4 separate regions of the Homo sapiens genome follow, and all the other regions are linked to region 2. Evidence: fine-mapped expression QTL. A gene starts in region 2. Each other region holds a variant in brackets. All regions are shown on one strand. Distances are from middle to middle. Region 1 overlaps ZC3H18 (zinc finger CCCH-type containing 18). Region 2 holds the start of SNAI3 (snail family transcriptional repressor 3). Region 3 overlaps ZFPM1 (zinc finger protein, FOG family member 1). Region 4 holds the start of MVD (mevalonate diphosphate decarboxylase).

Region 1 (8,098 bases), 75 kb before region 2:
CATATCATTTTGCAAATCTGAGCTCGTTTTGCTCCTTGTTTTCGTGTTCTTGTGCCTCTAGTGGGCTCCCCTTGTCCAGTCAGGGGGTGCCTCCACACAGGGACAGGTGGTTGCGGAGACTCCTGGGGGAGCTCCTCCTATTCCCCAGTGAGTAAGGTGCTGACTTTTGTTCCAAAGTGTGTCAGTATATTTTTATCATGCTAAAGTATCACTTCCTATTTTCTTTCCTTTTTTTTTTTTCTTATTTAATTTTCAAGACGGAGTTTCACTCTTGTTGCCCAGGCCGGAGTGCAATGGCACAGTCTCGGCTCATGGCAACCTCCACCTCCTGGGTTCAAGTGATTCTCCTGCCTCAGCCTCCTGAGTAGCTGGGATTACAGGCATGTGCCACCACGCCCAACTAATTTTGTATTTTTAGTAGAGAAGGGGTTTCTCCATGTTGGTCAGGCTGCTCTCAAACTCCTGACCTCAGGTGATCCACCTGCCTCGGCCTCCCACGGTGCTGGGATTACAGGCATGAGCCACCACACCTGGCCCTCACTTCCTATTTTCTTGAGTATTTTTTATCAAAAAGGCTATTGAATTTTTGTTAGACATTTTTATCATCTGTGAATAGAACCCTTTGACTTCTGGCCTGCTCTTAGATGTAGTTTGTGAACAGATTTCCTAACCTTGAGCCAACCTTGCGCTCCTGGAGTAAACCCCACTGCGTCACGGTCTGTTACTTTCTGTCCCTAATGTTTCGTGTGGTCTTTTTACGCCAGTGCTCCTAAGTGATGAGAGTTCTTTTTCATTGGCCCTTTTCAGACTCGAGCCTTACGCAGACCCTTATTATGACTATGAAATTGAGCGGTTTTGGCGTGGCGGACAGTATGAGAATTTCAGGGTGCAGTATACAGAAACAGAGCCGTATCATAATTACCGAGTAAGTATGACTTCAATATCCACATATGAACTTCATGATCTGTTCATTCAAGTTATCCCTTTTTATTTACAGTAAAAAATACAGGGCTTTATATGAGCTTATAGAGCCAGCACAATGTACCAATTTGAAAACCAAATTGATTGTTACGGAGAACGAATTCAGAGGCAGCGATTACATTAATGGTCATTTGAACAAAGACTTGCCTGAAAACTGGTTCTTGCTATGGTTTTGTTTTTTTGTGTGGTGTTTGTTTGTTTGTTTTTTGAGATAGGGTCCCACTCTGTCACCCAGGCTGGAGTGCAGCGGTGCAATCTCGGCTCACTGCAACCTCTACCTCCTGGGTTCAAATGATTCTCCATCCTCAGCCTCCCGAGTAGCTGGGACCACACGCATGCACCACCATGCCCAGCTAATTTTTTTGTATTTTTTTTGTAGAGACGGGGTTTTACCATGTTGTCCAGGCTGGTTTTGAACTCCTGAGCTCAAGCAATCCGCCTGCTTTAGCCTCCCAGAGTGCTGGGATTAAAGACATGAGCCACTGCGCCCGGCCTGGGTTGTTTGTTTTGGAGACGGAGTTTAACTCTGTCACCCAGGCTGGAGTTCAGTGGCGTGATCTCACCTCACTGCAACCTCTGCCTCCCAGATTCAAGCAATTCTCCTGCCTCAGCCTCCTGAGTAGCTGGGATTACAGGTGCCCACCATCACACCTGGCTAATTTTTTGTATTTTTAGTAGAGACAGGGTTTTGCCGTGTTGGTCAGGCTGGTCTCAAACTTCCGATCTCAGGTGATCTGCCTATCTCAGCCTCCCAAAGTGCTGGGATTACAGGCATAAGTCACTGTGCCCAGCTCGGCCTGGTTTTGAAAATGAGATTTGCCAGTATACTTACTGATGCCTGTGTCCAGGGGTGCCTGCGTCTCCCTGCTCGGGCGTGTCACTCTTCCCCACCCCTCAGTGATCCCGTTTAGGATGTGGCGCCTGTTCTGGTCCACTTCAGCCAGCTTGTTAAGTCTGTTCCGGGCCTGCTGCACCTCACTGCTCTCATGGAAGACTGGTCTATACTGAGATTTCCGCCCTGGAAATCTCCCTGGTCTGAGCCTCAGAGTTTAGCATATTGATGAGTTATGTGCTTCAGACTGTGAGTTCCTCATCTTAGCTGTTAGGGTGATTTGACGAAGTTGCCCCAGGGAAGGGTCAGTTAGAAGCTGCTGTGTAGTTCTGTTCTGTGACTGCAGGGACAGTCATGAGCTTTGAGGACCAGGTGCGGCTGTCTCCTCAGGAGCCCATCAGGGTGAGCTTGCAGAGGGAAGAGGGCCCCATCGTGCCAGAAAAGTCCCCCTGCTCGATGCTCTTGTGCCCCGTCTCTCCATAAAGCAGCTTCCTCATTGCAGGTGGGCTGCAGGGTCCTGCTGCTTACCCCTGGGCAGGGTACCCTGGAAGGTGGGAGAAAGCCCCAGGGATCCCTTTCCACTGCGTTCCTCTCTGCTGTGTCCGAGGGAGGGGCAGCAGGGAGGCTCGGGGTGCACCCTGCATCTCCCCAACAGAGGCCTCAAGCCTGAAACCCATCAGGTGCGTTGTGATTGGACTTTATTCAGTTTTAACCTTGAATATTAGAGCAAATGAATGAGTAAGAGCAGAGGAAAAGTTGGAAAGGGCATCCGAGGATTGTACTAGAAGAAGAGGAGCAGTCTTTTGGGTGCCTGCTCTGCTCCAGAGGCAGGGCATGTGCTCTGCTGTGGCTGCACCTACCTGGGACAAGCCTGGAACTCCCGTCTCTGGATGGACAAATGGACTTGCCCAGGCCACACGGCGGAAGGCCATCTGTGCCAACGACACCGGGCTGTGACTGCAGAATTGCTGCCCTGAGTTAGTCTAGAATTGGTGGTTGGGATGATTTCACTCCTAGTTTGTGTTTGCTCTAATTTGGCATCTGACCCGGTTTTTAACATTGTGTTTTAAGGAGAGAGCTGGGAATGAGATGAGATCCCCACTTGAGGGTGCTCCCTGATCCTGCCTCTCTCTTGCCATCTCCTCTGTACTCCACCGCAGAGAGTTCAATCATAGTCGGGAGCACTTGGCGTTTTGTGTGTAGGTTTGTGGGGTACAGGTGTGATTCTGTGACACAGACAGATCGCGTGGTGTTGGAGCCAAGGCTTTCAGTGCCTCTGTCACCCAAATAACGCACGGTGTCCCCATGTGTTTGGCTTTTTAACAAAGGAAAGGGAGCGGGAGCGAGAGAGAGAGAACAGACAGCGCGAGCG[CGAGCGG/C]GAGCGGGAGCGGGACCGAGAGCGGGAGCGCCGGCAGAGGGAGCGCGAGCGAGAGCGGGAGCGCGAGCGCGACAAGGAGCGGCAGCGGAGGAAGGAGGAGTGGGAGCGTGAGCGAGCCAAGCGGGACGAGAAGGACCGGCAGCACCGTGACCGCGACCGGGAGAAGGAGCGGGAGAAGGAGAAGGGGAAGCCCAAGCCCCGCTCCCCGCAGCCGCCAAGGTAGACCCTGCTTCCTGAAGCCCAGGGGTGTGGGGGAGGTCCGGCATGCAGCTCTGTACCTAGTCCCCCTGGCCTGCGCTTCCCCTCTGTGGCCCACAGCTCTGGAGCCCAGGGGACCAGTGCAGGCCCACAGCCCGAGCCCATAGTTCCAAACCCAGAGCTCTCCAACGCAGGGCCTTTCTGTAAAACTCCCAAGGCCGTGACATCTGCCCTGAGCTCCTGGGAGGCTGTTCTCATTCTAGAGGATCTCACTGATGTGAAAATGCTTACAGTCCACGTGCAAACATCGGTGTGTTTTAATAGGCGCTGCCCTTGTATACCACGCACGGTGTGTAACTCACACCCTGGGCACCATGTTACTGTTCTCAGGAGAGTTCTGAATTCCAAAGCATGCCTGGCCCCCAGAGCTTGGGACTGGGCTCAGGTGCTGTGGGGCATCCGTGTTGCTGGCCAGGGTGAGGCACTCTAGCAGCCAGCATGCAGGGGAGGGCCGGGCGGGCTGCTGTTTTTCCTTTGCGGAGTGGGTGCCTTGGGTGCAGAATGATCCTTGCTGCCAACTGCTGGGGGCACAGTCAAGACCCATGAGACAGGCAGGCGCTGGGGCTCAGGACAGCCCTTTTTTTCTCTCAAATATACTTGACTGTTAGAGCAGAATGGATGGGCGTCAGTGGACATTAGAGTACTGGATGATGTTTTTGGTGGGTGTTTTTTACAACTTTATTGAAATATAATTAATGGACGCTGCAACATACCCATTTAAAGTGTACAATCAGTGGTTTCTAGAATATTCACAGAGTTGTGCAGCCATCATCGCAATCAACATGAGAGCACTTTTGCCCCCTAAAGTGAAACCTTGCGGTGGCTCACACTTGCACCCTGCACTTTGGGAGGCTGAGGCAGGTGGATTGCTTGAAGCCAGGAGTTTGAGACCAGCCTGGGTAGCAAAGCAAGACTCCATCTCTATTTAAAAAAAAAAAAAAAAAATTAAAAATTAGCTGGGGGAGGTGGCATGAGCCTGTGGTCCCAGCTACTCGGGAGGCCAAGGCAGGAGGATTACAGGATCGCCCAGGTGTTGGAGGCTGCCATGAGCTACAATCGCACGGCTGCACTCCAGCCTGGATGACAAAGTGAGACCCTGTATCTAAAAAAAAAAAAAAATTAAAAATTGTTTTAAAAAAATCTAGGCTGGGCACGGTGGCTCACTCTTGTAATCTCAGCACTTTGGGCGGCCGGGATGGACAGATTGCTTGAGCTCAGGAATTGAGATCAGCCTGGGCAACATGGCAAAATCCCGTCTCTACAAAAAAATACAAAATATTAGCAGGGCGTGGTAGTGCACCACTGTGGTCCCAGCTACTCGGGAGGCTAATACGGGAGGATCACTTAAGCCCAGAAGGTTGAGGTTGCAGTGAGCTGAGATTGCACCACTGCACTCTAGCCTGGGTAATAGAGCAAGATTCTGTCTCAAAATAAAAAGAAGAAACATTGTACCCATCAGCAGTCACTCTCCATTTTCCCCACACTTCCCAGTCTCTTAGCAGCTTTGTGTCTCTAGGTATCTGCCCATTCAGAACGTTTTGTAGAAACGGAAGTGTGCAATACACAGCGTTTTGTAACTGGCCTCTTCTACTCCGAGCGTTTTTAACATTTGTCCACGTTGTAGCGTGGGTCAGTGCTTTATTCCTCCATGGATGCACCGCATTGCATTTCTCTGTTCGTCTGTTGATGGACGTTGGGTTGTTTCCAGCTTTTGGCTGTTGTGGTTGTGAATTTGTGTGCAAGTTTTTGTGTGGACATAGGTTTCCATTTTTCTTGAGCATATACCTCAGTGTGGAATTGCTAGATCACATGGTCACTCTATGTTTAGCTGTTTGAGAAACCCTCAAACTGTTGTGCAGAGCAGCTGCACCTTTTACATTCCCGCTAGCCGCATAGGAGGGCGCCATCTCTCTGCATCCTTGTCTGCACTTGCTGCGGTCCGTCTTGTTGATGACAGCCGTCTTGGTGGGTGTGACGTCTCCCTGCCGTTGCGATTTGTATTTCTCTGATGATGGATGATAATGAGAGCATCTTCTTCTGTGCTTATCAACCATTTGTATATCTTCTTTGGAGAAACGCCTATTCAGATCCTTTGCTCATTTTTTGTTTTTTATTATTGAGTGGTAAGAGTCCTTTATGTATTCCAGATACAAGTCCCTTATCAGGTTCATGATGTGCAGTTCCAATTAATGTTTTCTATTTTGTTGCTTATGGTTTTGGTGTCATGTAAGATACCATTGACTAATACAGGGTCATAAAGATTTACTGCCGTGTTCTCTTCTAAGAGTTTCATAGTTTTAGCTCTTACACATAGGTCTTTGATCCAGGCTGGGTGACAGAGAGAGACCCTGTCTCAAAAAAAGGGGGGGTGTCGATGAGAGCATGAACGTTGCTCCGTCTCAGGGTTGGTTTGTGTCACCGTCCCCGTGGGGGTGAAATGCAAGGAGGGATCAAGGCAGTTCCTTATTGGGAAACAGCCCGAGATCCTTCCAGGGCCATGGCCTGCAGGACTTCCCAGTCAGGAGTCTGTACTTCCAACTCAGGGATGTTGTTTGACTTGGCTCTCATAAAAATCCACATTTGGGCCTACACCTTCCAGTAACACTGGACTCCGCTAGACCTGCAGGCATGGGCAGCTTCGTGGCTGGAGCCACACAGTGGCCACACTTGGAGGGGCCACAGTTCTCATGCTCCCCTCAGAGACCTGGCAGCCATCAGGACCTGCGACTGTGGCTCTGGAAGGATTTGCTTTCCACCACGGGACAAAAACAAGCCCCTTGTCCTCCTCATCTTGTCCGTGTGGCTGGACGACACCCGCTCTTGTGTACAGTGGAACACAAGTCATCTACGCTTTTCTGAAAGTCAGCTCTCAGGCAGGACTTCGCAGGCCTTTGTTTCAGGGTCACTCATGGCTGTAGCTGCTGCTTAGCCGGTGGCAAGTGCCAGTTTTGACTGTTTTCATTCTCCAGCTCACAGTGAATGGACTTCCCTAAATGTGCTGTATTTGTCATACTTTCCTAACACTAGGCAAAGTAATCTTCTTAAAGAACATTCAGAATAAGTGACATATTTCAGATGTTTTTAATCCTTTTATGTTACAGTAATCTCTAAGTTATTTTGAAGTTTACATGGTCATCCAAACGGGGAAACCGTCATTGACCTTGACATTGTGCCGCCTTCTTCAGCCTTTCAAGCCCTTTTGGATAGAAGCCCTTCCCCTACAGCACACACAGTATTTTCAGTGTGCACTCAGCCTAAGGCTGCCTTCTCCCCTGAGACCCCACTGCAAAGGTGCAGCCCAGCACCCCGTGCACACACCCCCAGCCGCTCCCTCTGCCCAGATGGGCTGCCCCCATTTCCTCCATTCCGTCTGCCTGGACGGGCTGCCCCACCTCCTGTTCCCTCTGCCCAGATGGGCTGCCCCCACCTCCTCCATTCCCTCTGCGTTTGACAGGCTGCCCCCACCTGCTCCGTTCCCTCTGCCTGGACGGGCTGCCCCCACCTGCTCCGTTCCCTCTGCCTGGACGGGCTGCCCCCACCTGCTCCGTTCCCTCTGCCTGGACGGGCTGCCCCCACCTCCTCCATTCCCTCTGCCTTTGACAGGCTGCCCCCACCTCCTCCGTTCCCTCTGCCTTTGACAGGCTGCCCCCACCTCCTCCGTTCCCTCTGCCCGGACGGGCTGCCTCTACCTCCTCCAGGGTTTTGCTCAGATTCCTCTGCACAGGGAAGTCTCCCCATCCCCTCCTGCTTGCCAGCCTGCTTTCTTGTTCCTCATGGCCCTCAGTGCCCATCTGGAGCCCTTGCAGCAGATGGTCCTGGGGCACCACCGTCTGCCCTGCTCCCCGTTGCAGCCTCTGTGCCTGTCCCAGAGTCCCGCACAGGTTGGTGCTTACCCACATTTGGGGGTGCTGTCCGTGAGTTTTGGATTTGGTATCAGCCTGCATTTTTACCTGCATGTCATAATTGATTGTTACAGGGTTGCTAAAATTGCACATTGATTTCTACAAACAGAACCAGCTGAGTCTGCTTTCCAGATTCACAAAATAGGGGTTTTCACGCCACCCAGATCATTGGTTTTAGAAGCAGAGACATAGAAAGGCAGTGATATCCACGTGGAAGGTCACTGTGCTGTGTGGCTCTGGGTTTATGAGTCCGTCAGCATGTCCACTTTGGTGGCTTATGGGCACACGTGCCTGGCCACAGACCCCCTTCCCCAGCCCCTAGTCATGTATTCTGCCTGTTTCTAAGCAGCCGGGGGCTCTTCCCAGTCAGGAGTCTGTAATTCCAACTCAGGGATGTTTTCTGTGTACAAGAATGTACTTCTGGAGTACGCGTTAGAGGGCCGCCATGCCTAAGGTTGCTGTGTTCCTCTGCTGTGGCCCGCACTTTAGTGACCCGCGGAATGGGAGGGCAGATTCCCGACTGCTGTGCCCGTCTCCTGTGTGCTCAGCCTCCCCAGAGGAAAGCGGGTGACGGATCCCAGGAGGCTTGGAGAGGGTAACTCTGCCAGCATGGCCACCAGGCAGCAGGTTGCCATCGCCAGCCCCTGAGCCCTCAGCTTCACAGAGGAGTCTTACATTCAGGAAGGGACTGGGAGGTGCTCAGACGTTGTCTGGCCTGATCTGGGCTCACAGCTAGGGTTCAGGAAA
Region 2 (8,098 bases):
CTCGATCTCCTGACCTCGTGATCCACCCTCCTTGGCCTCCCAAAGTGCTGGGATCACAGGCGTGAGCCACCGCACCTGGCCCCCCACCCTTTTTTTTTTTTTTTTTTTGAGACAGAGTCTTGCTCTGTCTCCCAGGCTGGAGTGCAGTGGCGTGAAATCGGCTCACTGCAACCTGCAACCTCCACCTCCCAGGTCCAAATGATTTTCCTGCCTCAGACTCCCAAGTAGCTGGGACTACAGGTGTGCGCCACCATGCCTGGCTAATTTTTTTTTTCCCCCAGATGGAGTCTCGCTCTGTCACCCAGGCTGGAGTGCGATGGCACGATCTGGGCTCATTGCAACCTCTGCCTCCCTGGTTCAAGCAATTCTCCTGCCTCAGCCTCCCAAGTAGCTGGGATTACAGGCATGCGCCACCACGCCTGGCTTATTTTTGTATTCTTAGTAGAGACAGGGTTTTACCATGTTGGCCAGGCTGGTCTCGAACTCTTGACCTTGTGATCCGCCTGCATCAGCCTCCCAAAGTACTGGGATTACAGGCATAAGCCACTGCGCCTGGCCTTTTTTTTTTTTTTTTTTTTTGAGCTGGAGTCTCACTCTTGTCGCCCAGGCTGGAGTGCAATGGCGTGATCTCAGCTCACTGCAACCTCCGCCTCCCAGGTTCAAACAATTCTCCTGCCTCAGCCTCCTGATAGCTGGGATTACAGACACCTGCCACCATGCCCAGCTAATTTTTGTATGTTTAGTAGACGCGGGTTTTTGCCACATTGGCCAGACTCGTCTCAAACTCCTGGCCTCAAGGGATCTGCCCACCTCAGCCTCCCAAAGTGCTGGATTACAAGTGTGAGCCACTGCGCCCGGCCTGGGCAAGGGATCTGAATAACTATTTCTCCAAAGACGATACACAAATGGCCAATGAACACATGCAAAGATGCTCAATGCCATCAGGGAAGCCCAAATCGCAATCACAATGAGATGCTCACACCCAGTAGAACTGAAAAAAATTGACAATAACCAGTGCTGTGAGGATGAGGAGGAATAGGGGATTCAAAGGAACGCCTCCCATCTGCCACTCTCTCCTGACCTGACCTCCTCCCACCCTCAGTTTTCCTAATTACAGAGTCATCAGGTTTCTGTCCACCCAGAAGTGACGGCAATGACAGGCTAAGAGGCAGCGTCCAAGAGAGTTCTGGGGAGACAGCACTGGGGGAGCCCCAGGTTTCCCGGCTTTGCTGGGGCCTCTCTGCAGGAAAAAGTCACCATTTCTTTTTTCCATCTCTAAGACATGGCCACCTTTCTGCCTCCAGGTATTGTCACAGAGCCAGGACCCTGTTTGTGGGCCCAGTGGCTGAGCCCAGAGGCAGGACGGGGCAAGAGACAGTCTCGCCCCGTCAGGCTGACCATGTGTTTCTGCTGGGATTTTAAATGCTTTCCCCATACTCTCTGGGTTTTGCTTGCCTTTTTATTCATGCTGCGGTCCAGATCCTGGGGAGAAGACACTGTTTTGTTTTGTTTTGTTTTGAGACAGAGTCTCGCTCTGTCGCCCAGGTTGGAGTGCAGGGGCGCGATCGTGGCTCACTGCAACCTCCATCTCCCGGGTTCAAGTGATTCTCCTACCTCAGCCTCCTGAGTATCTGGGATTATAGGCACCCGCCAGCACACCGGGGTAACTTCTGTATTTTTAGTAGGGACGGGGTTTCGCCATGTTGGCTGGTTTCGAACTCCTGACCTCAAGTGATCTGCCGTCCTCGACCTCCCAAAGTGCTGAGATTACAGGCATGAGCCGCCACACCCAGCTGAAGAGACTGTTTAAGTACCTTGCTGGCTTCAGGGGTTCCCTGGGGAGCCATAGGAGCCATTTATTTAAAAGGAGAGATTGAGGGGCCCCAAATCCCAGCACCTCAGGTCTATCCTGGGGTAACATCTTGGCAGAAAGTTGCCAGGGCCCCCTGGCTGTCAGAAAGCCAGGCAGCTGGGGCTACAGTGAGGAGGGGAGCGGGGGCGGGGAGCAGAGAGCACTGCGGGGCAGCACGGCTACTCACGACAGTTGCCCACTGGGCCCAGCACAGCTACCCAGATTTGCACACTGGGATGGACCCTAAGCAACACTTTGAAACTTGCAACTATTACCCATGTAAATTCCGCACACATGTGTAGTCACATGCGCATCCACATACACATAACAGAAGCCAGTGTCCTTCACCATGAGCCAGGCACTCCGGCAGTTTCTGCTCTATTTTATTTTACAAAATTGCTGGGGGTGACTGATGAAACTGATTTCAAAATGCACATTTGAAAAGCATGGTCCTAGCTGGCACCCCCTGGTGGCAGCCCGGGCCTCGGGTGTGGGTCCAGGTGGGATCCCCCCCATCCCCAACTCTGGGTTCTGAGCTGGGATAAAGGCCTCTTGGCGGTGTTGCTGGGGGCCACAGCCCCAACAGCGCCCTTCCTGCTCTCCCCCACCGGCCACAGAGCGTGAGTCCCGACCACCGCGTCCGCCGGCGCCCCTCAGTGGGCCTTTGTCCCAAGAAGCTGCCAAGCCAGGTGGGGACTGCTCTCACCGCCCGTGTGGCAGGCTGTCCTCTGAAGGACAGAGTCCTCTTCTCTCGTGTCCCTAAGCCTAGCAGGCAGTGGGAATGAACGGGCAGCCCGGTTGCTGGGCACCCATCTCCCCAGCCTAGCCGGTGTGTGGAGGATTGCAGCCCTTTAGCCCAGCCTGCCCAGGCAAGCCTGCCGGGGTGAGCAGGAGGGCTTCTGGGGTGAAGGGAGGTGGGGGAGGGAGGGAGACCACGGGCGGAGGCTCACCTGAACTGAATGCAGGAGGGGCAGTGCCTTTGCACCAGAAAGAGCCCATGTGTCCTTCTCACCATCCCCTGTGCTTACACCCCCAGTCAGCATGCTCCGGGGGTCCCTGAGCCGGGCCGCCCCAGACGGCCCTCCTTCCCTCCCACCCACCACCCCGCGACCCCTCCCAAACGTGTGCGCCAGGAAGATGACTCCAGGGTGCCTTTAGCTGGGGCTGTAGTGGTTGGGACGGGCGGCTGTATATCAGGGGTGAGTTCCAGGGAGACTTGGGGGCTTAGAAAACTTAGAAAACTTCTCCAAGTTGGGAGAGAATCCCGCCCGCCCTGCCGGAGGCGGGGCTCAGTGCCCTGAAGTGGAGGCGCCCGTGGGCCACCTCCCTCCCTGCAGCCGCAGCCGCTGCGCAGAGGCGCTGGCTCCTTCTCCTCCCACCTGGGACAGGTGTCTCCCCAGCCCCCGCTCCCAGGGGCCTCTCTCTCTCTCCCGCCCCTCAGGGTCGAGTCCCGGCAGGGGCTCGGGGATCGGGTAGTCAGTACCTCTCTGCGTCTCCAGCCGCCGGTAGTTGGGGACCCTGTGGCTGGAGTGCGTTTTCACCAGGAAGGAGCGCGGCATGTTCCCCTCCCGGGCGGCAGGCCGGGGTGGGCTGGGGCGGGAGGGGCGCGCCTGGGTCCGGACTGCTGCGTCCGCCGGCGCTTGAAGGGGTCAGGCTCATTAGCATAGCGCGCCGCCTCCGCCAACCAGCGCCCGGCGCGAGTGGGGCGGGGCCACGGGGGCGGAACTGAGGGCGAGGCGGGGTCTCGGGCAACACGCCCAGGACAGGTGCGCGGGCGGGACGGGGCGGGGAGCGCGTGGCCGCCGGTGTCCTCCCCACGGGAATTCTCTGGCGTGCGCGCCGCCGAGTCACACACCGACCCGTCGGGCCTGGCCACCCACTCGCCGTGAGTGAAGGGCAGAGTTCAAAGCTGTGTGGAAACCGAGCGAGAATCTCTTCCACAGAATGTGGAAGCGTCGGCCGAGCGCGGTCCTTGGAGAACCCTTGCTGCGGAGAATGACGCTCACTCTGCGGCCTGGCCTCGCCTCCCCATCCCTTCTGCAAACTCACAGGACAGGATTGATGGGGAGAGCCCAGGCGAAACGAAGCTGACCCTAGTGACCAGCCCTACTGGCGGCTCTGGAACAGGCCCGGGACCGGTGGCCTGGAGACAGTGGTCCTTTCTGGATGGGCTGCAGTCTCCGAAGGCTTCCCCCACTGGAGTCAGCCCTTTAGGAGTTTGTCCAGTGCCTCCAGAAAGCTGTTTTTTGGGGGACGGAGGACTTGGCCTGGAATTCTGGAATTCCCAGGGGGTCAGACATGGTTATGGGAAGTTTAATAAAACCGGTGAATCACGTGAATTCTGCAACAGCTGCACGTGTGACCTGGGCAATCCGTTTCCCTCCTTTGTGGTCCTGTAGAGCCCTCAGGGTCATAAAAAGCTGGGAGCCGCTGTGTCCAGTGTCTGGGTCTCTTTTGACATGGACATTTCATAACGTTGGGGGCCAGGTGGGGCCGTCTCTGGGCTGGCGTGCACACAGGGTGTCCCTGGCTGTGCCGCCGGCCTGCCTCCCCAGCAGGGCTTCCACCTCAGAGCTGGGTGGCCTTTGCCCCCTGTGGGCCGGGGGTGGAGAAGGTGGGGGGTGGTGAGTCCATGGAAGCTCTGAGGGACAGACAGCAGGGAGGAGGGCCGTGCCACACCAGCATCCCACGTCCCACATCACACGTCCAGGGTGTGAAAAGCTGGGCTAGTATCAGCCCCACTTTGCCAATGAAAAAAAACTAGGCTGTGAGTCTGGGCTCAGCAGCTCACGCCTGTAATCCCAGCACTGTGGGAGGCTGAGACAAGAGGACTGCTTGAGCCCAGGAGTTTGAGACCAGCCTGAAAAACAACATGAGACCCCGTCTCTACAAAAAAAAAAAAAAAAATTATTTTAATTAGCCAGGCGTGGCAACACCCATCTTCAGTCCCAGCTACTCAGGACGCTGAGGAGGGAGGATTGCTTGTTGCAGTAGCCTCCAGGAGGTGGAGGCTGCTGTGAGCTATGATGACCCCACTGCACTCCAGTCTGGACAACAGAGCAAGACCCTGTCTCAAAAAATTAAAAAAAAACAAAAAAGAAGACCAAGGCTGTGAGAGGTTAGGACACAGTGGGATTGGGACCCAGCCACACTCCAGCTTGTCTGCCACTTGGTGAGGGGGAGTGGAAGGACAGGTGGAGGTGCCCCTGGAAGAAGGTGCCCGCCTCTCCTGCAAGCATGGCCTGGCACCACCACGCCGGGAGTGTAGATTTCAGAGGACACATGCCTGCCTTCTGCTTATTCACCTGTTCCTCGCCTGGAAAGGTTTCTATTTATAGCCTCCCTTCCTTCTCTCTCTCCCTCGCAGACACAGATAACGCTTGCAGATACCTGAGCCAAGCCTCCACCCACACCGTCCCTCCCCGCCCACCTACCCGTTGTGTGGCCACCCGCCAAGCCCCAGCAAGCTTATCTCCTAATCCCAGCTAGAGCCTGGTGTTACTCAGGGCTGCTGTAGCCCTCCCGAGGAGAATGGCTGATCTCATCCCGGGAACGCCCTAGAGGGCCTGCGAGCACCTTTGGGGTGGGGTCCCAGGGCTGCCGCAACAACTTGCCCCCCAGGGACACTCAAGTCGGCTGCAGACTCACTCTTCAGCTGTGATGCACAGGGCGGTGTCCAGGCTGGACCCAAGAAGGCCCCACAGAGGGAAACATCAGCGTCCCCCTTCCCACAGGTGCAGCCTCGGGGGTGGGGATTGGGGGAGGGCGGCCGTCTCCATCCTTTCCGTGTCTTCCGTTCCTCACTGCCGGCAGCTTGGCTCTGGGGGTTAAACTGACGTGCCCCTGAGTGGGGAAACCCACGGCCCACAGCCTGCTAGACCCGCCCTCCTGAACTGCAGCAGGCGACCCAGGTCCTTGCCCCCTTCCCTGGACATCTAGGACATCAGGATGATGACTTGTGCTGGGCCCGGCAGCCTGGCCCCTCCCATCTGCCTCCATCCGACACCCAAGAGCGGTTTTCCAGTGGGTAGCCCACCCCAAGAATTGCCGGTCAGGGCAAAAACGGTTAGAGTTCCATTTATGTTGACATTTTCATCCTTCCTACACGTATGTCTTCCTGCCTTTCTGGTTTTACAGTGACTGTAACCATAGTGTCTGGAGATGTGCACACAGGTATCCAACACGGTAGACATCTCTGTCACCATTGACTGTTGTTTGTTTTAAGATGGAGTCTCACTCCAACCTCCGCCTCCCAGGTTCAAGCAATTCTCCTGCCTCAGCCTCCCAAGTAGCTGGGATTACACGTGTGCACCACCATGCCAGGCTAATTTTTGTATTTTTACTAGAGACTGGGTTTCACCATGTTGGCTAGGCTAGTCTTGAACTCCTGATCTCAAGTGATCCTCCTGCCTTGGCCTCCCAAAGTGCTGGGATTACAGGCGGGAGCCACTGCTCGTTTTTTACTCATAGGGCTTTATGACCCAAACCTTGGAAACCCTCACTCCGAATTAGAACACAGTCCTTGAGAGCTAGACCAGGAGGGGCTCAGCCCTTGCTACCTGCACAATGCCCGCCTGTGGTCAGGTGCATGCTGGGGGTTCAGCAGGGCTTGTTGAACTGGATGGAAGAGAAGCAGGAGCTTGCAGACAGTGTGGCCTTTCTAGAGGCCCTGCCCCATGCTCTGGGGGCACGTAGGCCCTGTCTGTCTCGAGTGGAGACACTCAGGTGAAGACCCAGGCCCTCAAAGGAGAGTCTGGCAGCTGGGCCTTGCTTGTCCTTGGACTCAGAGAGATGGCCCCTCTTGTAGGAGCAAAGGCAGTTCATCGAGGCAGACATCCCATGCGGAGGCAGACATCGAGGGACAATCCCATGCGGCCCAAGGTCATGGGCCCATGGAAACTTGAACCCAGTGCTTGAAATCTCAACATCCAGCCAGACCGGGCGCCACTGTGTGCTTGGTCCCCCTCCGTGAAGGGGAACTCACTACTGTTTATGGCTGCCCACACCACCGTCTGAGGGCCGGATTGTCAGAGGGAGGGTGGTTTTTTGTTTTTTTGTTTTTTTTTTTGTTTTTAAGACGGAGTCTCACTCTGTCACCCAGACTGGAGTGCAGTGGCGTGATCTTTGCTCACCGTAACCTCCACCTCCTGGGTTCAAGTGATTCTCCTGCCTCAGCCTCCCAAGTAGCTCGGATTACAGGCATGTGCCACCATGCCTGGCTAATTTTTGTATTTTTAGTAGAGACAAGATTTCACCATGTTGGCCAGGCTGGTCTCCAACTCCTGACTTCAGGTGATCCACCTGCCTTGGCCTCCCAAAGTGCTGGGATTACAGGCGTGAGCCACCGCACCTGGCCAGGAAGGGTGGTTCTTAAGCTGGGGTTCAGTGGACACATCCTGTGTGATATGGGGGTTCTGAGAGGCAGACAGGGTTGTTTTCAGAGCCCCCAGCGAAAGTGGCTTTCAGTGCCAGTGCCAGGTGGCTGGCAGCCCTGTGCTCTTGGGAGATGAAGGGGATGGACATGGTATTTGCCGTGTGCCTTTCCCGGGATGTGTCGTTTGCCTGGCAGATGGCCTAATGCCTAGTTGTCTGACCTGCAACCATGAGTCCCCCCAGGAAACTTGCTCACACTGGCAGACGCCCCGTGGCTCCTGTCTGATTCACGTCCAGGTTATGCCTGCCTGACCATCGCTCTGGTGTTGGGAGCCTGCCCTCTGTCCCCCACGTCCCCGAGAAAACCCAGCCTGGGCAGCCCCTGGTTCTTCCTTGTGGAAGGTGCAAATTCAGTCCCCACTGCAGTAGGAAACATGTTCAAAGACTTACTACTCACAGGTCCTGGGCAGGGAGGGCGCCAGGAGTGGGAAGGGCCATCCTCCGTCCCCAGATCCCACAGGGCAGAAGTGAAGAGTCAGGCAGAGAGAAGACAGTGTGTGGTAACGGGCCGTATGCACAGGGAATGGGGAGTGGTCACTGCAGGTTCACAAGCAAATGCCTGAATGGTCTGATTAAAGGAAGTGCAGGGAGTGCGGGCAGCCCAGGCTCCTGGGTGGGAGATACGCCCCTAAGTGCTCATCTCTGGCCCCTGACATGGGCGGTTGAGCGTGGTGTCCTCCTGGTGCCCAGGCTGCAGGCTTGGCTGTGCTGCCCGTTAGAACAGTCCCTACCCACACCAACCGTAAGACACATGAAACTGCACAATGCCTCAGCACAGGCAAGGGAGAGTGACCGGTGCTGAGGGGAGCCCTT
Region 3 (8,098 bases), 150 kb before region 2:
GGTGTCTGCCACAGCTGTGGCTTCATCTCCACCACAAGGGACATCCTCTACAGCCACTTGGTCACCAACCACATGGTCTGCCAGCCTGGCTCCAAGGGTGAGATCTACTCGCCAGGGGCCGGACACCCAGCAACCAAGCTGCCCCCAGGTGAGCAGCCCTGTGGGGGCCACCCCTGCCCCTTAGGCCCCCTGAGCAGTGGGAAGGGAGTGGGCTTGTCGCCCAAGACAGGTGGGGGTCCGTTTCAGCCTTCGCTCTAAACCACTCCCGCCCACCCCTCCCCTTCCGGAGCTCGCCCTCCAGCTCTGACCGGCCAGGTCCTGCCCCAGGCCTGAGGTGCCACCCCTGCGATCTCTCTGCAGACAGTCTGGGCAGCTTCCAGCAGCAGCACACGGCCCTGCAAGGCCCCCTGGCCTCCGCGGACCTGGGCCTGGCGCCCACCCCATCGCCAGGACTGGACAGAAAGGCCCTGGCCGAGGCCACCAACGGAGAGGCCAGAGCGGAGCCTCTGGCCCAGAATGGAGGCAGCAGCGAGCCCCCGGCGGCCCCCAGGAGCATCAAGGTGGAGGCGGTGGAGGAGCCGGAGGCGGCCCCCATCCTGGGCCCCGGAGAGCCTGGGCCCCAGGCCCCGTCGCGGACGCCGTCGCCGCGCAGCCCCGCCCCGGCCAGGGTCAAGGCCGAGCTGTCCAGCCCCACGCCGGGCTCCAGCCCGGTGCCCGGCGAGCTGGGCCTGGCCGGGGCCCTGTTCCTTCCGCAGTACGTGTTCGGGCCCGACGCGGCGCCCCCCGCCTCGGAGATCCTGGCCAAGATGTCCGAGCTGGTGCACAGCCGGCTGCAGCAGGGCGCGGGCGCGGGCGCCGGCGGCGCGCAGACCGGGCTCTTCCCCGGGGCCCCCAAGGGCGCTACGTGCTTCGAGTGCGAGATCACCTTCAGCAACGTCAACAACTACTACGTGCACAAGCGCCTCTACTGTTCAGGCCGCCGTGCGCCCGAGGACGCGCCTGCCGCGCGCAGGCCCAAGGCGCCCCCCGGCCCGGCCCGCGCGCCCCCCGGCCAGCCCGCCGAACCCGACGCGCCGCGCTCGTCCCCGGGCCCCGGAGCGCGCGAGGAGGGGGCTGGGGGCGCGGCCACGCCCGAGGACGGCGCGGGCGGCCGGGGCAGCGAGGGCAGCCAGAGCCCGGGTAGCTCCGTGGACGACGCGGAGGACGACCCCAGCCGCACGCTGTGCGAGGCCTGCAACATCCGCTTCAGCCGCCACGAGACCTACACCGTGCACAAGCGGTACTACTGCGCCTCGCGCCACGACCCGCCGCCGCGCCGACCGGCCGCGCCCCCGGGACCCCCTGGGCCGGCCGCGCCCCCGGCCCCCTCTCCCGCCGCGCCTGTGCGCACGCGCAGACGCCGCAAGCTCTACGAGCTGCACGCGGCCGGCGCCCCGCCCCCCCCGCCGCCCGGCCACGCCCCCGCGCCCGAGTCGCCGCGGCCCGGAAGCGGAAGCGGAAGCGGCCCCGGCCTCGCCCCTGCGCGCTCGCCCGGCCCCGCGGCCGACGGCCCCATCGACCTGAGCAAGAAGCCGCGGCGCCCGCTCCCCGGAGCCCCGGCACCGGCGCTGGCCGACTACCACGAGTGCACGGCCTGCCGCGTGAGCTTCCACAGCCTCGAGGCCTACCTGGCGCACAAGAAGTACTCGTGCCCCGCTGCGCCACCGCCCGGCGCGCTCGGCCTGCCCGCCGCCGCCTGCCCCTACTGCCCCCCGAACGGCCCGGTGCGCGGGGACCTGCTGGAGCATTTCCGCCTGGCGCACGGCCTGCTGCTCGGCGCGCCCCTGGCCGGCCCGGGGGTCGAGGCCCGGACGCCGGCCGACCGCGGCCCCTCGCCCGCTCCCGCCCCCGCCGCCTCCCCGCAGCCCGGGTCCCGTGGCCCCCGGGACGGCCTCGGCCCGGAGCCCCAGGAGCCGCCGCCCGGCCCGCCCCCGTCCCCGGCCGCCGCGCCCGAGGCCGTGCCGCCCCCGCCGGCGCCCCCCTCCTACTCGGACAAGGGCGTCCAGACTCCCAGCAAGGGCACGCCGGCGCCGCTGCCCAACGGCAACCACCGGTACTGCCGTCTTTGCAACATCAAGTTCAGCAGCCTGTCCACCTTCATCGCCCACAAGAAGTATTACTGCTCCTCGCACGCCGCCGAGCACGTGAAGTGAGCGCCCACACTACAGCCGCAGACGCTTTGCACGCCCCGCTGCGATGCGGGGAGGGGGCCGCCCCCAGGCCGCACGGACTGCCGCTCCTGGGAACCCCGCCACGCACAGGCCTCGGCGGAGGGGGCCGCAGGGGGCAGCGCCCGCCTGGACCCTTGGCACTTAATAAAGAAGTTCAGTTTGATGAGCATGGTGGTGGGCCAGCCTAGTTCTCTGAGCCAGCAGGCACACGCAGCCAGTGTCACATCCAGCCCTGCTGTGTACACAGGCCACTGCGGCCCGGAGTGGCTGGGCCCCTGCCGGAGTTACACCACTGGGTGCTAAGAGCTAGACCGAGCGTCAGGTCGGAGGCCACAGCACACACTGAACCACTGCAGGGCCAGCCGCTCTGGGCCTACCCCACCCCAGCCCTGTCCATACCCCCCTAGGGAGAGCAGCCTCCACACTGCTGACCCTCTCCACGGTCTACTTGGCCGCCAGACACGGAAGAGAGGGGCACTGACCTGGCTGGCCATCCCCCAACCCTGCATGGTCCTGGGGGTCCGATGTCCCCCATCCAGTCACAGACCACCAGGGATGGCAGGGGTGGGGGCGCCCTGGGGAGGATGAAGCCCTGTGGTGGCCAAGGCTGGGGGAAGAACAGGCGAGTAGGTGGACAGGAGAGGGAGACCGAGGCCGAAGCATTCCCTGGCCTCGAGGGGGTCCTGATGCTCACTGGTGGGTGCATCTCTCCCTCAGAGCCAGGGCTGAGGACAACCGTGTGGTGGAGTCACCTGTGGTGGCTGAGTCGGTGCAAGGGTCAGGGCACCCCCACCCCCCGTCTTCCCTGCCCTGCTGGGCTGTATGGGCCGGCCACACTGAGGGAGTACTTGGCTGACCGCGTTCAGCCACGGTGTCACCGTGCCGTTTGCAGCTGGGTGGCTGTGGGCAGCCTCCAGCGTGCTTTCTCACTGGAGAACAAAAACACTCTTCTATTCCCAACGTCACTTTATTTTTTTATTTTTGGGTCTCACTCTCTTGCCCAGGCTGGAGTCCCTGGGATACTCACGGCTCATTGCAGCCTTGACCTCGTGAGCTCAAGTGATCTTCCCACCTCAGTTTCCTCAGTAGCTGGGGCTACAGGTGTACACCACCATGCCCAGCTAGTTTTTGTGTTTTTTGTAGAAATGGTGTCTCCCTATGTTGCCCAGGCTGGGCAACCCTATATTTTTTAGAGCTAAGGTCTTGTTCGGTTCCCCAGGCTGAAGTTCAGTGGCACGATCATAAGTCACTGCAGCCTCAAACTCCTGAGCTGAAACCATCTTCCTGCCTCAGCCTCCCAAGTAGCTGGGACTACAGGCTTGACCCACCACACCTGGCTAACTTTTAAAACATTTTTATAGAGACAGGGTCTTCCTGTGTTGCCCAAGATGGTCTCAAACTCCTGACCTCCAGTGCTCCTGCAGCCTCAGCCTCCCAGAACATTAGGATGACAGGCGCGAGCTACCATTCCCAGCCCATTTCCAACTCTACTTGAACTAGCTGCATTTTTTTCAGCTTTGCCCAGCAGCCCTGGTGAGTGCAGGCAAAGAAGGCAGCGGCCTCTTGCCTCAGAAGCCCGAGGCACTTCCCAGCCAGTCCAGGGCTCGCTCTCCTGCCCGCAGCTCGTGGGCCTGGGTCTGCAGCGCTTTCAGTGGTCTCTGATGTCTTTGTCCACCTGCCCACTAGGGTCTGGCCAGATGGGGCCCGTAGCCAAGGCCAATGGACAGACATGGCTTCCACCCCCTCCCAGGGACCTGAGCTCCAGGGAAGGCAAGCAGCCTTTTCCTCACAGACACCCCTTCTGTTGAAGACCAGGTGATAGCGGGGACGGGAGGCACGGACCCCTCAAGTCTGCTCATCATTTGCATTGTTGTGCATGAATTTGCGTGGAGGGTTCAGGAGGCTCTGCCCCCAAGTCCTCCCCAGGTGCGGGCGCAGGGTACAAGATGTTCTAAAAAATAGAAACCTGGTGGGGGGTTGTCACTGTGTGTACATTTAAAAGTAAACTGTTTAAAGGTGTCTAGAAACTACGAATACAGTCTCTGGTGAGTGACAGGTGCTCAAAGGGGGTAAAAAACACAACTCCAGTGTCCTCACCCCCTTTGAGCCCCACCCCAAACCTGACCAAGCGAGGCCCTGGAATGCAAGACGCAGAGGAGAATCTGGAAGACAGCCCAGCAGTGCCGCACAAACCCGCCATGCACCCAGACGTGCCTCAGTGTCCACACCTGTGCCGCAGGAGTGGGAGTTCGGGCCTGGCAACCCTTCCTGGGGGCTCATCTCAGAGGCAGCAAGGACCCTGTGACCGGGACCCAGACCTGAAGTCACCCCAGAGGGCCCC[G/A]CCACGGCCCGGACTCGAAGCTTAGGGCAGCACACTGAGCCTCACGAAGGGCCCTGCGCCTGTCCTGGCTTGCATAACCCCCTACTGTCCCCACCATGCAGGGCTGGGTACCGCTGCCATCGCCCGTCCCAGGTCATTGGCGTGTGGCCAGAGCCCGTCCCCATCGCACCCAGGACTCGCCTCGGGCACGCGTCTTCTGCACAGACCCTGGGGCCCCCACACCTGGCAGACGCCATCAGTCACCCCTACTCCCTCAAGCCATCACCCCAGTCTCCCCCCACCAGACCACCGCCTGGGCCTCCACCCTGTGCCTCCCCTGTAGCCGCTGACTCGGTGGTGGCCCAGGCCTTCTCCCGCCTCTCCCCAGGAAGCTGCCTGCCCTGCTCACAGACACCCCCTCGGCCCCCCAGCTGGTTCTCTGCTGAGCCAGGTTCAAGGCTCTGAGTCTGCCCTGGTCTCCCCTTGAAGTTCTCCCTCCACACTCCTGGGGTGGGCTCATGGTCTTCTCTCCACTAATTCTGTAGTCTAGCCACGCCTCCCCTGAGCCCCAGACCTGCAGACCTACAGCCCCTGTGTCCTTCCAGGCCCTTGATGTACCATGAGTGACTGTAACCCCACGCACCTGTAACTTCTGCCCACACCTGTGCAGGTGTTCCCCTCCCCCAAGCCCACCTGTCTCCCCACACCAGTGCAAGCACCCCCCTGGCTCACTGTCTCCTCCCCTCACCTGCACAGGCATCACCCCGAGCCCACCTGTCTCCCCACCAGCCCACCTGTCTCCTCCCCTCACCTGCATAGGCATCCTCAGTGGCCCCCTGCCCCTCAAGCTGGAGAGCATCAGCCTTGCCTATTCACCCTTCATTGTCAAAGCAATGCTTGATTTGTCCAAATCCCACCGCTTCCCAAACCCATCCACCATCGCCGACTCCCAGACCTGGGACTTCACCCTTGAGTCTCTCTGAACAGCCGCTTCCAAATCTCGAGGGTCCACTCCTCACACAGCTGCCACCGCTCCCCTCTCCCAGGCTCACCCTGCTCTGAGGCCCGTCCCCGCCCCCAGGTGCCTGTGCTTCGCGTAAAACCCCTTCTGTTACTGGCCCCATCCTTCAGAGGTCAGAAGTCCCCCTTCTCTGCCTCAGCACAGAGGAGAGGAGCCTCCCGTTGGCGGCCTGTCCCGACGGCAGCCCCTGGCCCTGCTAAGCCCACCACCCGCTGGGCTCCATGCTGCAGCTGGTTGCTCCAGGCAGTGCCTCCTGATGCCCTCTCTACTCCTCCGAGGCTGTCCTTGTCATCCAGCTCTCAGCTTAGGTGCCCCCTCAGACCTGTCCCTGGCTCACTTCCCGCGTAGGAACGGTCACTCTGCACCTCTGTCCCCAGCTCGCTCCCGTGTAGGAATGGTCACTCTGCACCTCTGTCCCCAGCTCACTCCCACGTAGGAACGGTCACTCTGCATCTCTGTCCTCTTGCCCGTCGCCTACTGGCCTGTCTCCTTTGAAAGCTGGGGCTGCGCCTGCTTGACCTCTGCCTCCCAGGCACCCACAAGTGGCCGACACAGAGGAGGGGTCTGCATCTGTTGAAGTCACAGGGGTGTGTGTGGACCACAGCCAGCCCCTCCCCATGCCCAGCAGTCAGTCCAACTGTCACAGCCCACTTTCCAGCCACACTGTCCACTCATGGCACACGGCCACCGTCACAGCCCACTCTCCAATCACACTGTCCACTGAGTCCCATGTGTGACCTGAGCTTCTTGGATCTCGGACCGCTGCATTCCAAGCTGCTCTCTCCCCACTCCTCCCCCCTCCCCACTCCCCCCAGCTTTGCCTGTGAAACTCCTTCTCTCCTCAAGACTGGCTTAAAAGGTCCCCCTCAGGGCCACCCAGCCAGGCTGTACCCGTCCCCTGCCCTGCACAGGATGGGCCTCCCGCCTCCACCCTCCTTCTTCCAGGAGGGCACCTGCTCCCTTCTACCTGAGCTGCATACAGCTCAAAGCCCCTTGCAGGCTGGCAACTCCCAGGCAGGGTCAGCCCAGCCTGCCGGGAGTCCCTCACGCTACTTGGGACACAACGTCCACGAGATGATGCAGGGCAGCCTCGCCCTCCTGAGGCCCCTTCCTCTGCCAGGCACAGGGTCTGTCCTCTCAGCCACACCATGGGCTGAGTGCCCTGACTGTGCACGAGGGCCCCAAGGTTCCATCGGGACACACCTCCTGCCCAGGCACCTGGCGGGCACAGCTGGGCCAGGACACATCCCTCTGCTGGCTTCCAGCACTCGGTTCTCGACCACCAGCCGTACTGCTGGGCACTGGCTCCCAGCCACGCCCTGGCTTACAGAAAGCTCAGGCCTAGCAGAAGCCCACCCCAGCCTGCCTGAGGAAGGGTGGGAGTGGAGAGGGCCCCCACTGCCGGCCCTGTCTCCCACACCAGGACACCAACATGCAGAGCAGGACATCACCTGTGGCTGGGGGGCTGCGTGAGCTGGCAACCGTCGGATGGGTCTGCTCTGAAAACCGGTCCCCACCTGTCCCCCGCAAGCCGACCCCTCGGGAGAGCCCAGCTTTGGAGTCTCAGGCAGAGCCTCAGGACGCCAGGAGGCAGCAAAGCCGTTGCACTCTGGCCTGCCCTGTATCTGCCGGGGCCTTGCAGAGGGGGAGGGAGGAAGATTGGGAGGAGGCAGCCTCACCCCCTCAACACCCAACCCCCTCCTCCTTGGAGGTGCCAGGGAGAGGTGAAGAGAAGAGCAAACCATGCAGCTGTGGACAGAACTCGCCTCGGGACCTCGGGCTGGGAGTGTCTCAGAGGTGAGCCAGGCAGGGGCAGGGAGGGTCGGGAGCTCCGGGCAGAGGTTAGGGTTAGGGCGGGACGCATGGAGGAGGGAGGCGCAGAGCAGGAGGTCTCGCAGCTTTTCGGAAGCGCATCCATTTCCACAGCGAGGGAAGGAGCAGGGGAGGTGACTGGCCACCCGGGAGGAGCTTGGCCACCAGACAGCCAGGTGGCCTGGACCTGGCGAGAGTGGCGAACCCGGCAGAATCCCAACCTCACAGGGCTGTTCCAGGCTGCTTCCAACACGACCCTGGAGGCACATCCTCTGATGCTGTCCTTGGGCAGGGAGCAGGGGGCTCCCAGGCACGGTGACTTGCCCAGGGTCACAGGAGTGACCACCAAGATGCAAGGGAAATACACAGCCTGAGCCCTGCCTTGCACACGGCGGCCCTCGCACCAGCACGGCCTCCCCATCTGGCACCCTCAGAGCCCCTCTGTCCCCTCAGAGCCCCAGGCCTCCCCAGCACTGCCCACAGACCTGCAGCAGCTTCTGTCTGGCTGCTTCCCTCCCTGCCGGCCAGGGCCTGGGAATCTGCATTTAACCAGCTCCCAGCAGTTTGCTCTCTGGCACGTGTGAGACCTGCACTCACAGCAGGTGCCCAGACCGTGGGCGCCGACCTCACTAGCTCACCAGCAGGAGCACACACAGCCCTGCTCACCAGGCCTTCGTCAGCTGAGGCAGGGGCGGGGCAGGGAGAGAGCTGGACCCAGATCTCTGCCCAAGGGCC
Region 4 (8,098 bases), 23 kb before region 2:
TCAAAAAAAAAAAAAAAGAAAAGAAAAAAAGAAACAGATCCCTCCCACACTCCAGGCTGGAACAGTGCCCCGCCCCCTTTCCCTCCCTGAAGGAGTGGGGACTTTCACCTCCCCAGGAGTCATTGGAGAGCACACGGGAGACTGGACTCCCCTGACCTGCCGGCTCTTGTCAGAGGCCAAGCAGACACTCAGGAATTCCTGAGGGCCTGGTGGGGATGGGACAGCGTTGGTGGGGAGGGGAACCTGGACTTCTGCCTCCTTATCTTGAGCCAGCACCCCCTCCTCCACCAGCGCGCTATCAAAAACCAGCTCAAACGTAAGGTTTAAAGAAGACCAGAGTCTCTGAACGTTACAAGAAAATGGACACGTTTCCATAAATATCACTGTTGGTGAGCCTCAGTGGCTCACACCTACGATCCCAGCACTTTGGGAGGCCGAAGCAGGCAGATCACTTGAGGTCAGGAGTTTAAGACCAGCCTGGCCAATATGGCAAAACCCCGTCTCCACTAAAAGTACAAAAATTAGCCAGGTGTGGTGGCGCACACCTGTAGTCCCAGCTACTCGAGAGGCTGAGGCAGGAGAATCGGTTGAACCCGGGAAGCGGAGGTTGCAGTGAGCCGAGATCACGCCATTGCACTCCAGCCTGGGTGTCGCAGTGACAGTCTGTCTCAAAAAAATAAATATAAAAGTAATACAAATAAATATAAAAATATAAATATAAAATAAATAAATATAAAAAATAAAAATAAAAGGCCAGACGCGGTGGCTCACACCTGTAATCCCAGCACTTTGGGAGGCTGAGGTGGGCAGATCACGAGGTCAGGAGCTTCAGACCAGCCTGGCTAACACGGTGAAACCCCATCTCTACTAAAAATACAAAAATTAGCCAAGTGTGGTGGCACGTGCATGTAGTCCCAAATACTCAGAAGACTAAGGCAGGAGAATTGCTTGAACCCAGGAGGCGGAGGTTACAGTGAGCCAAGATTGTGCCACTGCACTCCAGCCTGGGTGACAGAGCAAGACTCTGTCTCAAAAAAAAAAAAAAAAAAAAAAAAAATAGCAGAAGAGAAAATCCAGAAATAGACCCACACAAACATGCCCAGCTGATTTTTTTTTTTACAAAAGTGCAAAAGCAATTCAATAGAGGAAGGATAGCCTTTCTGGGCTAACTGGACAACCTTGGATCACAGACTTAAATATAAAAGGCAATCCTGTACAACTTGGAGGAAAGCAGACAATCTTCAGGACATAGGGCTAAGCAAAGAGGTCTTAGACTTGACATCAACATTGATACACTGAACTTCTTTAAAATGAAAAACTGGCTCTTTGTTAAGAGGACAAAAAGATTAGCTAGTTTGGGAGACAATACCTGCAAACCACATGTCCAACAGGAGACTAATATCTAGAATACATATTTTATTTTTTTTCAGTAGAGACGGGGGTTTCACCATGTTGGCCAAGCTGGTCTCAAACTCCTGACCTCAGGTGATCCGCCCACCTCAGCCTCCCCAAGTGCTGGGATTACAGGCTTGAGCCAGCGTGCCCAGCCTAGAATGTGTAATGAACTCTCCAAACTTATAGTAAAAAAGCAAACCATCCAGTTCGAGCGTGGACACAGAATATGAAGAGAGATTTCACCAAGAAAACCCACAGATGGCAAATAAGCACAAAGAAAGATGCTCCACGTCACTGGCCAACAGGGAAACGCGAATGAGGACCACAGCACCCTGCCAGCACATCCCTACCAGGACGCGGCTAAAATGAAAAACAGCAACTCCACCAAATGCTGGTGAGGATGCGGAAAATCTGCATCACCGTAGGGATGCAAAATGGCCCAGCCACTCTGAAAAACAATTAGACAGTTTCTTTAAAAAAAAAAAGTATATATATAATATATATATGTATATATACACACACATACATCTATATAGGTGTATACATATACACACACATATATCTATACAGGTGTATATATATATACACACACACAAACATACATATATACATAGAAAGAGAGAGAGAGACAGAGAGGCATATATATATATCTACCATCTGACCCAGCAACCGCACTCCTGGGCATTTATCCCAGAAGAATGGAAATGTATGTTCACACAAAAACCTGTATACAACATTTTATGGCAGCTTTATTGGTAAGGGAAACACAAAAAAATTAGCCAGTCGTGGTGGCGGCTTCTGGAAAGAAAAGAAAGAAAGAAAGAAAACGTTAGATGCTCTTTGCGGGGTGAGGCCTTGGCTAGAGAGAGGGTGGTCCATGGATTCCACGGACTGGCTCAGCAACAGAGGGGCAAAGCACTGATACAATCCCGGGGCACGTCCACATTCTATGCTGAATGAAATAAGCCAAACTCAAAAGATACTGGGTGGGCCACATAACTGCGATTCCAGTTTCAGAACATTTTGAAATGACGTTACAGAAATGAGTGGTCAGTGGCGGCCAGGTAACCCCGGCGCGAGGGGAGGGGCGGGGCTGTGAACGCACAGGTGCGGACCGGCCTCCCCGGCACGGATGTGGGCCTGCGGGCCCCCCATTACCGCTCCTTGGAGGTTACCGCTGGGAGAAACGGGGCGAGGGAGGGACACAGGGTCTCGGGCTGGGGGAGCAGTGGCGCGATTTCCGCTCACTGCAGCCTCGACCTCCCGGGCTCTGGCCATCCTCCCGCCTCAGCCTCCCGAGTAGCTGGAGCCACAAACGCGCACCACCACGGCGGATTCTTACGATTCATGGGAATCGATGATTGATGATTTCGATAGTTCGGTAATCGCTAATGGGCAGGCGCCGGGCGACCCTGCAGGGGCGGCAGCCGTCGCGGGGGAACGGGTGGCGCCGAGCTTGTCACGCGAAGGAGCGCGCGGCCCCGCCCGACCACCGCCGCGCCCCTCCCTGAGCCTCAGTTTCCCCGTCTGTCGAGGCCCTGGGAGGGCAGGACGGAGCGCGCCGCCGAATCAGCGCGCGACCCCCGCGTACCCGGCCTCGCTCCCGGCCATCCCCGTCCCAGGCCGGCCCGCGGCACTCACAGTACTTGATGACCGCGATGTTGACCGGCGCTGTACAAGTGACTGCCGCCAGCGGCTTCTCCGAGGCCATGGTCCCACCGCGCAGTGACCCCAGCTCCACAGCCACTTACGGCCCGCGATCCCACCCCAGAGGCCTCTGCCTCCTCACGCGCTACCACAGGATTGGCCCGTGCGAGCCCGGCTGCTCGCGCGCCGACCAATCAGCGGCGAGTCGGGCGCACGCATTACCTCTCAGCCAATGGACGGGATCGGACGATGGGTTGCTGACGTAGGTCCGCCCCACCCGCAGGGTGCGCTCGCCAGGCCTGGGGCGTGGTGTTGTCTGCGCAGGCGCCGTGTGCCCAGGCGCCTGGCGTCCGCGTCGGCGATCCGGGGTCTGGGCGCGGCGAGGTGGGCGCTGTTGCCTGTGGGGGCTACCTGTCTGCTGGTGCTGTGCGGGCTTGTGCGGGGCTGTGCGGCAGCTGTGTGGGGCCCGTGAGGAGCTGTGCGGGGGGCTGTGCGAAGGGCTGTGTGAGGCGCTGTGCTGGGGGCTGTGCGGAGACCTTGAGGCGCTGTGCGGGGTCCGTGAGGCTCTGTGTGGGGCGCCGTGTGGGAGACTCTGCGGGGGCCGTAAAGGGTCCGTGAGGCGCTGTGTGCGGGTTGTGAGGCGCTGTGCGGGGACCATGAAGGGGCCGTGGGGCGCTGTGCGGGTGCCGTGGGGCGCTGTGTGGGAGGGAGGCTGTGCGGGGCCGTGGGACGGTGTGCGGGGCTGAGGGGAGGGCGGGTCGCGCTGTGCCCTCCTTGAAGCTCTTGGACGGCCCCGCTGGGTATGGGGGTGCACACAGGCCCGAGGGCAGGCGCTGGAGGATGTATCCCGGGATCCACTCTTAACCCGGCAGCCGAAGGCACCCTGTCCCGCCGCCCACAGCCTTCTCCGCGCCATGTCCTGGGCCAGGATCCCCCGCCACGGGGCTCACACGAAAGACCCCGGGGCGGGGAAGCCCCGCAGCCCGGAGCTGGGTCCAACCTGCATTAAGGTGGGCGTCTCAAATACCCCCTGTAAGGCCCTGTAGGAGCAAAGCCTTGGACTGGGTTGCGGCGCTTGTGTGTGCATTGACTTCTCCTGTGAAACGTACAGGAACATTTAAGCGTGCCGTTCCCTGCCATTCATTCCAATCATGTGCCACGCCCCCACTATTTCTAGAGTTTTCTCACCCCAAACAGAAACTCTGTCCCCTTAAAACAATGACTTCCCATTTTCCCCTTCCCCTTTTAAAATTTTACCTTTAGTTTTTAAATAGCTCAGATTGGCTGGGCATGGTGGCTCACACCTGTAATCCCAGCACTTTGGGAGGCCGAGGTGGGCGGATCACGAGGTCAGGAGTTTGAGACCAGCCTGGCCAACATGGTGAAACCCTGTCTCTACTAAAAATACAATAATTAGGTGGGCGTGTGGTGCACGCCTGTAATCCCAGCTACTGGGGAGGCTGAGGCAGGACAATTGCTTGAACTCAGGAGGCGGAAGTTGCAGTGAGCCGAGATGGTGCTGCTGTACTCCAGCCAGGGTGACAGAGCAAGACTCCATCTCAAAAAAAAAAAAA[A/AAAAAAAG]AAAAAAAAAAAACTCAGATTTCGGAAAATAGGGGAGTATGCAGTGTGAAGTGTCCACTCTGCCTAGCCACCTACTTCTATTACCAGAACCATCATACTTATAAATTCTTTATTTTTTTCCAGAAATAGAAAAAAAGTCTGTTTTTTTTCTCACTCTGTTGCTCAGGCTGGAGGGCAGTGGTACGATCAAAGCTCCATGCAGCCTCGACCTCCTGGCTCAAGGGATCTTCCCACCTCAGTTTCCTCAGTAGTTGGGACTACAGGTACACACCACCATGCCCGGCTAATTTTTTTCTTAATTTTTTTGTAGAGATGTGGGGGGGTCTTGCTATGTTGCCCAGGCTGATTTGAAGTCCTGGCCTCAGGGAACCCTCCCATCTCAGTCTTCCAAAGTACTGGGATTAGGTGTGAGCCACTCCACCTGGCCTGTCAATTCTTTGTGTATTTTTTCATTGACGTGCATAGTACAAGCACATAGCGTGTTCTCCCACCTTGCTTTTTCTACGTACCTTCTTCTTAGAGATCATCCCAATTTAGTAAAAAGCTTCCTTGTTTGTTGTCTAAATATACCTGGTCTGTCCTAGTTGGGTTGTTACTATAAACAGTGCTTTCCTACGTTGTTTGTGCACATGTATTTCTGCAGGAGAAATTCCTGGAAGTGGAATTGCTGGGCCAAGTGGGATGTGCCTGAGTACTTTTGATAGCTGTTGGCAAGTCGCCCTTTGTGGAAGTCAATTGATTACTCAGGTCTCTCTGCGGAAGTCTGAGAGTGCCTGCATGCCTTCACCAGCACAGTGGGTCACCTGCCAGAGTGACATGTGTTGTCTCACTGTTTTCAATTTGCATTTCAGATGGTGGTTATTTTTAATTTCTCTTGCAATCACAGCTGCTTTTCCATTTTATGCAAAGCCACTAAATCCTATTGAAGAGCTGATGTGGACTGTCTCGGCCTATAGTCAGGGTGTATTCCCTCAGCTACTCAGAGAGAGTGGGGCTTCCAGTCACCTCCTTCCTTCTGCCACGGCTGTGATGAAAAAGAAGACACAGGCTTGGTGCTTTGGGAGGCCAAGGAGGGCAGATTGTTTAAGTCCAGTAGAAAAAAAAACAATTTATTTTTGTTTAGAGACAGGGTCTCACTCTGTTGTCCAGGCTGGAGTGCGATGGCACCATCAGCTCACAGCAGCCTCAACCTCCTGGGCTCAGGTGATCCTCCCACTTCAGCCTCCCAAGTAGCTGTGATAAGTGCCACCACTCCTGACTAATTTTTATTTTTTATTTTGTAGAGATGGAGGTCTTACTGTGTTGCCCAGGCTGCTCTTTTTTTTTTTTTTAGACAGAGTCTCGCTGTGTCACCCAGGCTGGAGTGCAGGGGGGCAATCATAGCTCACTGCAACTTCTGCCTCCTGGTTTCAAGTGATTCTCATGCCTCAGCCTCCCAAGTAGCTGGGATTACAAGCGTGCACCAGCAGGCCCGGCAAATTTTTGTATTTTTAGTAGAGACGGGGTTTCGCCATGTTTGGCCAGGCTGGTCTCAGACTCCTTGCCTCAAGTGATACGCCTGCCTCGGCCTCCCAAAGCACTGGGATTACAGGCGTGAGCCACCATGCCTGGCGTTTTTATTATTATTATTTTTTTTTTTTTTTTTGAGACAGAGTCTCGGTCTGTCACCCAGGCTGGAGTGCAGTGGCGTGATCTCGGCTCACTGCAACCTCCGCCTCCCACGTTCACGCCATTCTCCTGCCTCAGCCTCCCAAGTAGCTGGGACTACAGGCGCCCACCACCACGACCGGCTACTTTTTTTTGTTATTTTTAGTAGAGACGGGGTTTCACTGTGTTAGCCAGGATGGTCTCGATCTCCTGACCTTGTGATCCGCCCGCCTCAGCCTCCCAAAGTGCTGCGATTGCAGGCGTGAGCCACTGTGCCTGGCCCTATTTTTTTAAGTTTTAGATAACCTCTATTGATTATGACTCAATAGAAATAAGGAATTCTCTTCCATCTCCCAGTCACATACCTTCTTATCCTATCCCTCCATCAGCATTCCTTATTTTCATTATTACAATTATCTAAGTTATACTCACAGTTGAGCCATGTAGCAATGGGTGCCGACAGTGTGCTTGTGGGCAGACTCCCTTATTGAGTGGAGAACTAGGATAAACTACCTCCCTGAAAGATGTCACACATCGATCCCCACCCTGACGCCTGTAGCCCAGCTCTCCTGAACCTCAGCCTGTATGTGTGTCGAAAATAGGCCAAGCATGGTGGTCCATGCCTGTAAGCCCAGCAGCACTTTGGGATTTGGGAGGACTGCTTGAGGCCTGGAGTTCAAGACCAGTCTGGGCAACATAGCGAGACTCCACCATATCCACAAAAAAAAAATTTTTTTTTTTTTTTTTTTTAAGACACAGTCTTGTTCCATTGCCCAGGCTGGAGTGCAGTGGTGCAATCTCGGCTCACTGCAACCTCCGCCTCCCAGGCTCACTGCAACGTCCGCCTCCCAGGCTCACTGCAACCTCCGCCTCCCAGGCTCAAGTGATTCTCCTGCCTCAGCCTCCCAAGTAGTTGGGACTCCAGGTGTGTACCACCACACCCAGCTAATTTTTTTGTATTTTTAGTAGAGACGGGGTTTCACCATGTTAGCCAGGATGGTCATGGTCTCGATCTCCTGACCTCGTGATCCACCCGCCTAGGCCTCCCAAAGTGCTGGGATTACAGACATGAGCCACCGCATCCAGCCTACAAAAAAATTTTTTCAAAATTAGCTGGCCGTAGTGGTGCACACCTGTACTCCCAGCTACTAGAGAGGCTAAAGCAGGATGATCGCTTGAGCCCAGGAGTTCAAAGCTTCAGTGAGCTCTGATCACACCACCGCACCTGAGCCACAGGCATGGGTGCTTTGCTGAGTATGGTATGGGTAGGCTGTGTGTGGCACTGATTCATGAGGGGAGAGGGTCTGGGAGATGAATGGGAAGCCAGACAGCTGGAGCCCGTGGGTGGGCCCTGACTGGTGTTGGGGCAAGGAGGGGAAGCCCAGCCAGGGCTGAGCATGTCCTGCCTGGTTCCAGGCCTGCAGCCCTGGGGGTTTGGCCTGGACAGGCCAGCAGAGGGGCCCCGAGCACAGCCTGCACAGCATCCTACTGCTGATCCCCGGGGCTTCCTGCGTCCTGGCGCTTCCTGTCCTTTCCCCAAGCCCAGGCATCTGGGACTTTAAAAAGTCAGAAAGCAACTGGAAAGGAAGGCATGTGTCTAGCTTGCTCTATATCTGCCTTGCATTGGGAGGCCTTCAGTGGGAATGTTTTTCTGGAAGCAGTCAGCAAATGTGAAACACCATGAAGCCAGGCGATTGGAGAGGTAAAAAGAAGCGAGGACTCAGGGAATATGGGCATTTTAAAAATAATAATTTAAATTAAAAAAAGACAAGGAAATGTTTATTCCAGAGGAGTTAACAATTTGATACTTTTTTTTAACTTTTATTTTAGGTTTG

Evidence for each region. PIP is the estimated chance that this variant, and not a neighbour inherited with it, causes the effect.
Region 1: its variant is fine-mapped to the expression of SNAI3 in whole blood (INTERVAL, PIP above 0.99).
Region 3: its variant is fine-mapped to the expression of SNAI3 in whole blood (INTERVAL, PIP above 0.99).
Region 4: its variant is fine-mapped to the expression of SNAI3 in whole blood (INTERVAL, PIP above 0.99).

What each region holds. Positions count from the first base shown.
Region 1 is chr16:88,608,127-88,616,224 of GRCh38, forward strand. It overlaps ZC3H18 (zinc finger CCCH-type containing 18), which reads left to right. Exons shown (of 18, transcript NM_144604.4): 7 at 808-925; 8 at 3,142-3,410. Among named protein-coding and RNA genes, the nearest start is that of IL17C, 26 kb to the right of the region's middle. RefSeq lists an enhancer at 2,019-2,964. The variant CGAGCGG/C (reference allele first, on the strand shown) is at 3,186.
Region 2 is chr16:88,682,996-88,691,093 of GRCh38, forward strand. SNAI3 (snail family transcriptional repressor 3) reads right to left here and starts at 3,512. Exons shown (of 3, transcript NM_178310.4): 1 at 3,336-3,512. The coding sequence starts at 3,411. SNAI3-AS1 (SNAI3 antisense RNA 1) reads left to right here. Exons shown (of 4, transcript NR_024399.1): 4 at 3,796-4,191. RefSeq lists silencers at 3,123-3,282, 3,333-3,792, 6,705-6,879.
Region 3 is chr16:88,532,788-88,540,885 of GRCh38, forward strand. ZFPM1 (zinc finger protein, FOG family member 1) reads left to right here. Exons shown (of 10, transcript NM_153813.3): 9 at 2-148; 10 at 361-4,244. The coding sequence ends at 2,192. Among named protein-coding and RNA genes, the nearest start is that of ZFPM1-AS1, 5.8 kb to the left of the region's middle. RefSeq lists enhancers at 637-1,197, 1,198-1,759, 6,907-7,509 and a silencer at 1,401-1,860. The variant G/A (reference allele first, on the strand shown) is at 4,552.
Region 4 is chr16:88,659,975-88,668,072 of GRCh38, forward strand. MVD (mevalonate diphosphate decarboxylase) reads right to left here and starts at 3,117. Exons shown (of 10, transcript NM_002461.3): 1 at 3,037-3,117. The coding sequence starts at 3,106. It overlaps SNAI3-AS1 (SNAI3 antisense RNA 1), which reads left to right and starts at 3,399. Exons shown (of 4, transcript NR_024399.1): 1 at 3,399-3,426. RefSeq lists silencers at 2,862-3,281, 3,622-3,781 and an enhancer at 3,362-3,411. The variant A/AAAAAAAG (reference allele first, on the strand shown) is at 4,617.